Homo sapiens: one gene and its partners. The protein of the gene in region 3 interacts with the protein of the main gene of each other region in a biochemical or structural test. Each region holds a gene or a part of one and is shown on either strand. Other genes may lie near its edges.

Region 1 (2,751 bases), on a different chromosome or scaffold from region 3:
CCCCTGCCTACGTCCCCAGATGGCCTCACAGGTGCATCATAGCCGCTCCAACCCCACCGATATCTACCCCTCCAAGTGGATTGCCCGGCTCCGCCACATCAAGCGGCTCCGCCAGCGGGTAGGGAATATGGGGCTCCCTCAGCGGGGTGTGCTGGCTGCCCAAGCTGTGGGGCGGGTGTGTGGGCAGAGCGGTTGCCACGCCTCCCAGACTTACTGCCCAAGCCGCCTCTGCCTTCAGATCTGCGAGGAAGCCGCCTACTCCAACCCCAGCCTACCTCTGGTGCACCCTCCGTCCCATAGCAAAGCCCCTGCACAGACTCCAGCCGAGCCCACACCTGGCTATGAGGTGGGCCAGCGGAAGCGCCTCATCTCCTCGGTGGAGGACTTCACCGAGTTTGTGTGAGGCCGGGGCCCTCCCTCCTGCACTGGCCTTGGACGGTATTGCCTGTCAGTGAAATAAATAAAGTCCTGACCCCAGTGCACAGACATAGAGGCACAGATTGCAGTCAGACAGCTCTTTTATTGACTTTGTCTGCTTGGTGCGGGGGTTGGGGGGGTGTCGAGGCTCTAGAAGCGGCCATGCCCACAGAAGTGGTACACAGAAGCAGGCACAGCCAGCTCCGAGGGCCTTGAGGCTGCCTGGGCCATACAGCACACTCGCGCGTGCGCGCGCGCACACACACACACACACAGTCACCTTCCTCCACCCTGGGAGCCAGCCCCCAGGAGGAGTCTTTTCCTCTAACCACCCTGGGGTCCTCTGACATGCCTAGTCCTGCTACTTGCCCAGACCTGATGCCAGCAGGCCTGGGCGCTGCTCTCTTGCTACCTGGCCTGGGGCAAGGGAGGATGACAAGGCCTCTGGGGTGATGAGAGTGCCTGGCAGACAGCTGTGCCCCCAGCACCGGCCCAAGGCCAAGCTCGCATCCAAGCAGCAGCCGGGCTGCCATAACGCCACCACACCTACCAAGCGCAGCAGGTGTTGGGGGAGGCCAGCTCTGGGCGCAGGCCCCTCAGCCCTAGTGAAAATAGTGACATACAAAAATATACACATTTTAACACCATATAAATTACTGACACGAGACACACAGTGAGACGGTGCAGGGAGTACGGTAGGAACTGGAGAGGTAATAACTTAGGGGCAGGGTGGCGGCGGTGCAGGCTAACCCTCCCTGAAGCCAGCAGCCTTAGCAGTGGGGGACATCTGCCCAGGGGGTGGGGCCGGGCACAGCCCGCTGTACCTGAGGACTCGGGGAAATAAATTAGCATCTCAGAGGCTAGAAACCGTCCAATACTGCTGTGTCCTTCCCAAGGGAGCTGGGGAGGGGACCCTGGGTCCTGGTTGGCCACACAGCCTCTTTAAAGTGCTGAAGCCCACAGACAGACAGATGCCCCTGCCTGCTCTCTGGGGAACCTACGTGCAGCCATTCTGCCTGGCCCTCGGCCTTGACAGCGGCAGAAAGTAATACTGAGCGGTGTCCACTCCGACTCCACGGCCCACCCCCGCCAGGAAGGAGGACTAAGTGCTGCTGGGGTGGACCTTGTTCTTGGCCCGAAGGGGTGTCCTGCTGGGGCCAGTGGCCAGGTCCACACCCCGACTGGCCCGGGCAAGGCGGCTGGGCAGTGCTGGCCGCAGGCCCGGGGATGGGCCACGGGAAGATCCGGCGGGCGCCCGGCTGCTCCTGCGGCCTTGCAGGCTGTGCAGCTGCTGCTCCAGCTGGTAGACGTCCTCTGTGGCCTGGTTGAGTCGGTCAAACTGGGTGAGCAGGGCCTCGAACACGGCTTGGAGGCGGGAGGGCTCAGGCTCACACCTTGTCCCCAGCCGGCCCAGGCTCACGCTCAGCCCATCCAGCTGGCTGGAGGAGGTGGAGGGGTGCGAGGCATCGGAGCCAGCGCTGGGTGGGGGCACATCCGGGGATACCTTGGAGCCCCTGGAGGAGCGAGAGGGCAGCGGCTCCATCCCTTCAAAGCGGACTTTGTGGCGGAACTGGGGGCGGCACAGGGGCTCAGTCAGTCCGGCTGCACCCTGGGCAGAGCCCAGGGCGTGTCCCTCTCCCCCCCACTGGGCCGTACCCACCTCCTTGACCTTGCTGAGGCCCATCCAGAGGCGCAGCCTGCGCAGGAACAACTCCACCATCTCGTAGTCCTGGGGCTCCCAGGCCGGCCGGTACAGCTCTCCACGCAAGGCGTGGTAGCGCCAGCGGAGAATAACAGCCCCCAGCCGTAGGGCGCCCCACAGCCGCAGTGCCCAGAGCCCCACACACAGCAGGGGTGACAGGTGCCAGGACTCGGCAGGACACAGGGTAGAGAGCCCAGTCCCAGGGCACAGCACCAACAGGGCCTGGGCCACGCTCCAGAGGGAGTCCACACAGGAAGACACGAGCTGCGGGGAAGGCGACACCAGTGAGGGCGTACAGCTGAGCTGAGCTGAGCTAAGACGCCCTCCCCGGCCGCGCAGTCACCTACCAGGATGGCCAGCTGGGCGTAGGCTACCCCGAGCACCACCAGGCCCAAGGTGACCCCCAGGAGCTCTGGCAGAGCTCGGCATAATGTCTTGCCAAAGACGGACCACTGGCGCACGAAGCGTAGCTGCTGGGCAGCCTGCGGACGAGAAATCTGTCTGCTTGCAGCCCTGGGGTGTGCGCCCAGCCCCGCGCCCACCGGCCCAGCCCTCACCTTGACCAAAAGCAGGAAGAGCAGCGAGGCCGCCAGGCCACGGGCTGCGGAGCTCAGCTGCGCCACCTGGTCGAA
Region 2 (3,790 bases), on a different chromosome or scaffold from region 3:
CAGGCACTGGGGGCAGAGCTGCAGAGTCAACAAAGCAGGGAGCAGGATGGTGGAAAGCACAGACTGGCACTCCAGGCCCCATCCCCACTTGACTGGAGTTGATTTGTGAGTTGAAACCCAGATGCCATCTATGGATTATACCCTTGCCACTGAAGAAGACATTTCTGGAGACTTCTGCAAAAGCCCAAGCTTGGAAAACCACCATGATGAGCTACAGAAGCTGCTGCCTTCACTGGCAAGGGGCTTGCTCTGACCATCCTGCTGACCAGGGACACTCAAACCTGCCTCAGAGAAGAGACCGGCACCATTCCCAGGGGAGGGGGCACCCCGATCCCGGCCACAGCAAATTCGTGAATGCCCAGTGTGCACTGGGGTAAAAAGGTCATTCAGATAGAAGTAAATTCACGGAGATCTGAATATTCTTTCTAATGATTGTGCCTCTGTTGCTGTTGTTTTAATAAAGAAAATTTTCCTAAGAAGATACAGCATTTCCTAAGAGAATGAAAGCGCAGTGGGAGAAAATAGATTTGCTATTCATAAGATTAGAAGTGCTGTTGATCTGTGGGAGATTATAAGAGACTATTTTCTCCACAGCTTAGCATTCGTCTTTTCACGCTGATATCATGAATCAGAATGAAATGTAAAACTGAGAATTAAGCAAACATTTAGAAGAAGGAGATTGTTCTGTTTATAGAAATCTCCTCTGCCTAGCTGTGGGCTATTAAGGCAGCAGACTACATTAGCAGTCAAGCACCTAAAAGTTTAGCAATCATATGATTAACAAGTTGAAAATAGAAAAGTATAACAAGGAAAATAGAGAGGGAGAAGGCAGTGACCTATATTATAACTAATTACCAAAACAGGAATGCTAACATCAAAAACTGTGGGTGTGGACTCAACAGTTTCGGCATCAGGGCCACCTGCTCGCTGTAGGTGGGGTGGCCACCCGTGACCCAACAGACTCACCTCCTCCATCCTGGTCACCCTGATGTCCGGGCTGGCTGACTGCACCATGATGCGGGGCACGGGCTGAGGAGGCAAGTGTGCAGGTCAGGGGTCGAGAGGACAGAACAGGGGTAGCAGAAAGGTTTCCGCTGCACAGGCTGGAGGGCCAGGACCTGCCCGAGGGGAATCGGCCCATCAGGTGTGCGAGTGTGAGGGGCTCCACACCCTCCAAGGAACAAGGGACCCAGCAAGGGGCTCCTCCCCCAGCCAGGGAAACAGGCCACATGCCAAGATCACCAACACACATGGTGCACTTACACACACGACGCTCTCTCCCTCCCTCCAATCACATATGCACATGTGAACCGAGGACTGGGCCTGTACAGACAAGCATTATGAGACAGGAAAGATACAGAAAGACTTCCGGCAGGAGGTGAAAGCCATGCCAGGCTCTGATGGCTGGGGAGAGGAAGGAGTGTAGTCACAGGAGGGGAGGAGGAAGGAGGCCAGGCTGGCTGGAGCACAAACCCAGAGCCCAAGATGGCAGGCACAGGTCTGCAGAAGGCCCTGGGCATCGGAAACTAACCCTACTCAGGAGAGGAAGGGGGTCCCCACTGAGTCCTGAGCAAAGCAAGAAGACAGCTGAAGGCCAGAGACACTGTCCGGGTGGGGACACAACATGACCGGAAGAATATTTAAAGTCCAAAGAGGCAGATCAGTAATGCAACTCCAGTGACAGAGCAGGGGGAGGAGGTAAGAGCCACAGGAAAGGGCCTGGTTACTTGTGGACACATGGGCCAGGGAACATTAAAGAGACAGAGTTAAGAATCATCAGAGCCAGGAAAAGGGAAGCCTCGGGGAGAGAAGGAACCAGAGCATCATTCTGTTGCTGCGGAGTGGCTGTGGGACACAGAAGCAGCCGAGCAGATGTGCTCATCCCAGAAGAAGCTGGGAACATGCCACTTCTGCCCCTCCCCCTCCCCCTACCCGACTGCAGGAACCAGGCCTGGCCTCCCATGCTGGGCTCTCATGAGGGCTCCATTCTGCCAGGACAGCCGCGGGTAGGGCTTCTTTCTTGTTGGGTCCACAGGGCACAGCTGGTGGCTGCTCGGTTACTGAACTTTAACTGCCCAGAGATGTGGACTCCACGTCTCCCACCTCCCTTCTCCCAGCCCTCGGCAGTCCTGGTGCTTTGGCTCTTGTGCGTCTGGGCACTTGAGGCCTCGATGGAGTCAGGCCTTCTAGACAGAGCCTGCAGGCGCGAGCCACACCGCCCAGGCCTTCCTTCCTACTGGGGAGCCTGGACTCCAGCTGTAGGGAGAAGAGTCCCGAAGAAGCCAGCCCGCTCAGCAGGGTGCTCACCATGTTTACAAGCATGGAATAGCCTCGCTTCACCTGAGGGCACCACTATGACCACTCGTGCCTTGGGGCTGCTTTTGGAAGAAAAGTATAAGAGGGAATTGATTCCACAGAAGGTAAGGGGGCACTGGCAGGATTTGAGAAAAGGTGCAGTGGAGAGGACTCGAGAGGAAACGCAGCGATCAGGCTTAAAGACCTGGAAGGACTGGAGCCAGATGTGGTGGTGCACACCTGCAGTCCCAGCTCCTCAGGAGGCTGAGGCAGGAGAATCACTTAAGCCCAGGAGTTGGAGGCTGCAGTGAGCTATGATCACACCACCACACTCCACCCTGGGCAACAAAGCAAGACCCTGTGTCAAAGAAGAAAAAAAGAAAATAAGGTGGAAGGACCAAGGAAATGAACAAAAGGAATGTGTACTTTACACTGCAACCACTAGGGAGTTCCTGGGGTGGTCTGAGGCCCAGGACAGCTAGGACCAGGGTGCATTAAAGATTATGTGAGCAGCCAATGGGACAGAATGAGGGAGGGTCCCCTGGTGGCAGTTAGGCCATTGCACATGACAAGGCCTGAAGAACAAGACCTTCAGCCTCCACCTCAATTCCTTGACCAGAACAGTCTCCCCTCTGCGCCCCTCCCAGCACTCAGCTCCTTCTGTCCCACTACTGCTCTCCACGGCCCCGCCTACCGCCATCTCCCAGAGAAGAAAGTGAGGCTCAAGCACGCGTCCCACACTGCCACGCAGTCCTCGCATGCCAGGGCTCGTATCTTCATTTTTCTGCCTATAGTATTTAACGTCCCCACAAATGGGAAGGTGTTCAAGGGTATATTTCATGACAAAAGCAGAAAAAACATTTCTCAAACTCCAAAATACTTGCATTCTTCACTACATCTTACCTAAAGTGGACAAGATTGGGGAACAACTGTTTCCACAAAGGTGAAGTTTATTCCCCTTAAAGCCTAAAAATGCAAATACCCCAAGGATGGGATGTTAAGCGCCTAACATGAAACCTTTTCTAAAATCACATGATTCCTGCCCTCTGAAATAGAACATGCAAACAAGTTACACTTTCCTTCAGGACCCAGTGTGATTAGAAAAACCCAGTAGATAGATGCTTATTAAATATTTGCTGAAATGGATTCAGGGACTCGACTGACTGCCACTTTGGTTCTCACTCTCCATGTAAAAAAGTTCAGCTCAACAGAGACTGCACCAGGTCCTACCATGCGGGGGGCGTGGCACCAGGTGCCTCAGGCAACATCAGCATCAGAGGCATGGGCTTTGCTCTCAACAGATGGGCAACCTGATTGGTGGGGAACACATAAGCAAATCACTAAAATCAAGGAAGGTGACAGTGGAGTGGAAGCTTCAAAAGCAGAGAGGAGGCCAGGCACGGTGGTTCACGCCTATAATCCCAGCAGTTTGGGAGGCCGCAGCAGGAGGATCACCTGAGGTCAGGAGTTTGGGACCAGCCTGGCCAACATGGTG
Region 3 (3,790 bases):
GAGCAGGGCAGGGAGGCTGGGAGTTCATGTGGGGATACTCAGATGATGAACAAAACCCAAATGGGCAGAAGAACAATCACAAAGTCTCCAGATCCACAGACGGGAAGACGGACACATACACACACACACACACACACACACACACACAGATACACACACCCAAACATAAAGCACTAGACAGAAGCAACAGACTCAATAGCCGGGTATGGTGGCACATGCCTGTAATCCCAGCTACTTGGGAGGCTGAGGCAGGAGAATCGCTTGAACCCGGGAGGCGGAGGTTGCAGTGAGCCAAGATCCTGCCATTGCACTCCAGCCTGGGCAACAAGAGCGAAATTCCGTCTCAAAAAAAAAAAAAAAAAAAAAAGCAACAGACTCAAACTTCCGATCAGACACACACAGAGACACACACACACACCCAGAAATGTACACTTCCAGATACAAAAAGAGACACAAAGATATCTAGATCAATGTAGTAGTGCTAGCCGATGACCTAGACACATCTAATCAATGCAGACTAACCTAGATCAACTCACCCGTATTGAAACTCTGACCCAGTCCCACACCGACCCTACCAGCTTTCTATTAATTCACTCATGGAGATCAGTGAATGGGCCAGAGGACCTTAGACACCAAAGCTGAGGCTTAAAATTGGTGAGCAGAGAGCACACCTACTCAGAGATGAGCTTCTGCCCTCAACAGGTGTTAGAAGCATAGGTGCTACAGACAGTGAGGCTGGCCAGGTCAGAGAATGGGGCGGGGAGCACACACCTCGGAGCTCTTGTAGCCCAGGAGCAGATAGGTGGCCATCACCTCGTTGTATCTCTGGCCCACCAGCGAGTCCTGGATCTCTTCCCGTGTATAACCCATGGACACCATCAGCTCTGCACAGGGGGACATACAGTTAAGACTGGCCTCAACTCCTAGGCAAGCTTAACCTCACAGCCCGGCACAGCCTCACCTGTCCGCCGGGGGTCCTTGTAGTCAGGGAGTGGCTCCACGTAAGGCTTTAGTTCATCATCTTCGTGACCCACATTCATCCATCGATCTTTCATGATTTGCTGGGGAGCACAGAGAAGGAAAAGGGCAGGGGGAAGAAACTCAGCTGGAAAGTTTCTGTGGGGACCCCAGGCCCTTCCGCCAGTTGGGCTCCACTGCTCACCTCTAAAGTGCCTCTCTTGCTGGGATTAAGAATGAGAAATTTCTTAAGCAGGTTTTCACAGTCCGTGGACATGTAGAATGGAATACGGTATTTTCCCCTCAGTACCCGTTCCCGCAGCTCCTGCAGGAGGATCCAGGGTTAGAAAATTGAAATCACCCCAAGGCCAAAGGAAGAAACCTAATATCCAAGATCCTGAGAGCTTAAGCCTGGCAAAGCAGACATAAATGAAATATGGAAGAAGGCAGACAGCCTGGGGACAAGACACCTCACCAGAGAGGCAAGTGAAGTCAAATACCCTCGTACCCTCTAACTTGACCAGTCCGAGGCCTGCAATCCGGAGTGCCTTGGGGGATGAACACACACACAGTTTATCCCATCTTTCGAGAAAGGAACTGAGGTTATTCATTCCCAGGTGCAGAAGGCCTTTGACTGCTGCTACCTCAGCAAGCCCTTCTCTGAAGCTTTGGCTTGGGACAAATGTAGACAGGTGGCAAAGGCAGGAGGTCAGGGCTAAGACCAGAGGCCGAGAGGAAATGAGAAGCAATAAAAAGCTTGCACTTCACTCCACCTTGAGGTTCTGTCCATCAAAAGGCAGGGATCCGCTGACCAGTGTATAGAGGATAACTCCTAGGCTCCACACATCCACCTCGGGTCCATCATATTTTTTGCCCTGGAAGAGTTCTGGGGCAGCATAAGGGGGACTGCCACAGAAGGTGTCCAGCTTGTTCCCAAAGGTGAATTCATTGCTGAAGCCAAAGTCTGCAATCTTGATGTTCATATCAGCATCCAAGAGCAGGTTTTCTGCCTGGGAGGTAAGATGGAAAACATCAGGGAACCAAGTGGACCAGACTAAGGCCCTGGGCAGGAAGGAGCTGAGGGGAATGGGAGAACAAACGGAAAGTCATCTTCAGTCTCAGAACTTTCTCCACCAATTTCAGGGCAGGGCTTCAATCAGCGTGAATAGGCTGGGCAGGAGGAAGGCAATGCAGGCCACTCCTCACGTGGGCAGCCATGGGAGAGATGGGATCTGAAGGCCCAGAGACCCTGTGAGCTGTGCAAAGCTTCAGCATCAGGCCCAGGTTAATCAAATCATGTCTGTGAGGACTCAGCAGCCAAGAGACCCACAGGTGTCCTCAAACTTGAGTATCTTGGTGATGGAGATGGTATGTGTGTGCCTGCCTGCAAAGCAGCTGGGATACAGCTGTGGAACTTTCAGCACTCTTCCCTGGGTCAGCTACCAGGTTGCCTGAAAGACTGAGAAAGCCTGGAGTGTGCCTGCCTTGCTTGGCAGCACTAAAAGGTGATGTGCCAAGAGGTGAAATGGCAGAGGGCCCCTGCTCAAGGGCTAGAATGGAACCCGAGGTCCAGCCACAAGGCCTCTATCAGAGGCAGCCCTAGGGGCTTTCTGGTCATCTCAAAAAAAAAAAAAGAAAGAAAGAAAGAAAAAAAGAAAGGCTGGAGTTTCCTGGAACACTCAGGGCCTGATGGTTATTGATGGTTTTATCATGGAGAACCAAGAGGCAACAACCTGGCTCCCACTCAAAGGCACAAGGAGAAGTGCATGCCTTACCTTTAAGTCTCTATGGACAATAAACTTCTGGTGACAGTACTGCACAGCAGACACTATCTGAAAGGAAGGAAGAAGGGTTAACCCAGGGGTGCCTGAGGGTGGGCCACAGGGGCTGACAGAGCAGTGACCCTGTGACTTAGTGCTAACCTGCCACACGGATAAGCAGAGCCCAAAGTACCCTCCAAGGGCCACTTACAGACAGGCAGCTTATCCTTACATGTCAAACCCCAAAAGCAGAGGTCAGGCCTAGCTCCTATGGAGGGAGTCACACCTACCTGGCGGAATTTGGCTCGAGCCTCTTTTTCTTTCATCCTGCCATGAGCCACTAGGTAATCAAATACCTCTCCTGTAAGAGACCAGGCAGGGATCTCAGTCAGAGCTGGCTGGAGGTGGAAGAAGTGGGGGCACAACAGGAAGAGGCAGTTCCACACCTACCGCCACTAGCGTACTCCATGACAAGGTAGAGCGTTTTCTCAGTCTCAATCACTTCAAATAATTTAACTACAAGAGAAAAGGCCAAGCCTTAAGTCAAGAAGCAACAGGGGCCACATACTGCTCTCCAACATGTCCAGGAGCATCCTAGGAACGAAAGTCTCCCCTCCTTTCATGATCCCCCACTCCCAAGAACAAGTTCCTCTCATGCCAGCCAAACTGCTAAAGACAGCCCAGTGTGCCAGAAGGGGAGATGGATTTTGAGCTGAGCTTCCCCAGGGGTATCCTTGAAGACTGCAGACTCCAGAAGGCAGTGCACCTCGGGGAGAAGATGACATGCTGGAAAGCAGTGCCTTGCTGTTGGGGAAGAAGAAAGAAATAACAACTTGTGCTCACCTATGTTGGGATGATTCAAAACCTTCATTATTCTTACTTCGCGGAATAGCTGGAAGATAAAATACCAGGGGTCATGCCTGCCCAACTTGCTCCCATCAGGTCTCTCCAAACAGTCCCTGCCAGGATTTGTTTTTCCCAAAAAACCAAAACCGGGCAGGGAAAAGAAAATAGGGTGGTTGTCTAGCTCATGCACGGCCTTCCCTGTGGCTGGGAAGTTGGGGAAGCTGGAG

Evidence for each region.
Region 1: of the proteins of MARK2 (region 3) and PKD1, one has a biochemical effect on the other in vitro, tested with the Homo sapiens proteins (one study listed by BioGRID).
Region 2: the proteins of MARK2 (region 3) and KIF13B form a complex in vitro, tested with the Homo sapiens proteins (one study listed by BioGRID).

What each region holds. Positions count from the first base shown.
Region 1 is NC_000016.10:2,088,208-2,090,958, forward strand, and holds the end of PKD1 (polycystin-1 isoform 1 precursor), read right to left. Parts: coding exon 2,677-2,751; intron 2,602-2,676; coding exon 2,467-2,601; intron 2,384-2,466; coding exon 2,078-2,383; exon of another isoform or gene 1,988-2,077; coding exon 1,520-1,987; 3' UTR 501-1,519; downstream 1-500. Other genes in the region: TSC2 (tuberin), read left to right, coding at 20-118, 239-403. UniProt on the Homo sapiens protein: Component of a heteromeric calcium-permeable ion channel formed by PKD1 and PKD2 that is activated by interaction between PKD1 and a Wnt family member, such as WNT3A and WNT9B. Both PKD1 and PKD2 are required for channel activity.
Region 2 is NC_000008.11:29,074,315-29,078,104, forward strand, and holds part of KIF13B (kinesin-like protein KIF13B), read right to left. Parts: intron 1,030-3,790; coding exon 967-1,029; intron 1-966. UniProt on the Homo sapiens protein: Involved in reorganization of the cortical cytoskeleton. Regulates axon formation by promoting the formation of extra axons. May be functionally important for the intracellular trafficking of MAGUKs and associated protein complexes.
Region 3 is NC_000011.10:63,898,051-63,901,840, reverse strand, and holds part of MARK2 (serine/threonine-protein kinase MARK2), read right to left. Parts: intron 3,610-3,790; coding exon 3,561-3,609; intron 3,234-3,560; coding exon 3,168-3,233; intron 3,079-3,167; coding exon 3,008-3,078; intron 2,790-3,007; coding exon 2,733-2,789; intron 1,968-2,732; coding exon 1,731-1,967; intron 1,283-1,730; coding exon 1,163-1,282; intron 1,062-1,162; coding exon 962-1,061; intron 885-961; coding exon 772-884; intron 1-771. UniProt on the Homo sapiens protein: Serine/threonine-protein kinase. Involved in cell polarity and microtubule dynamics regulation. Phosphorylates CRTC2/TORC2, DCX, HDAC7, KIF13B, MAP2, MAP4 and RAB11FIP2. Phosphorylates the microtubule-associated protein MAPT/TAU.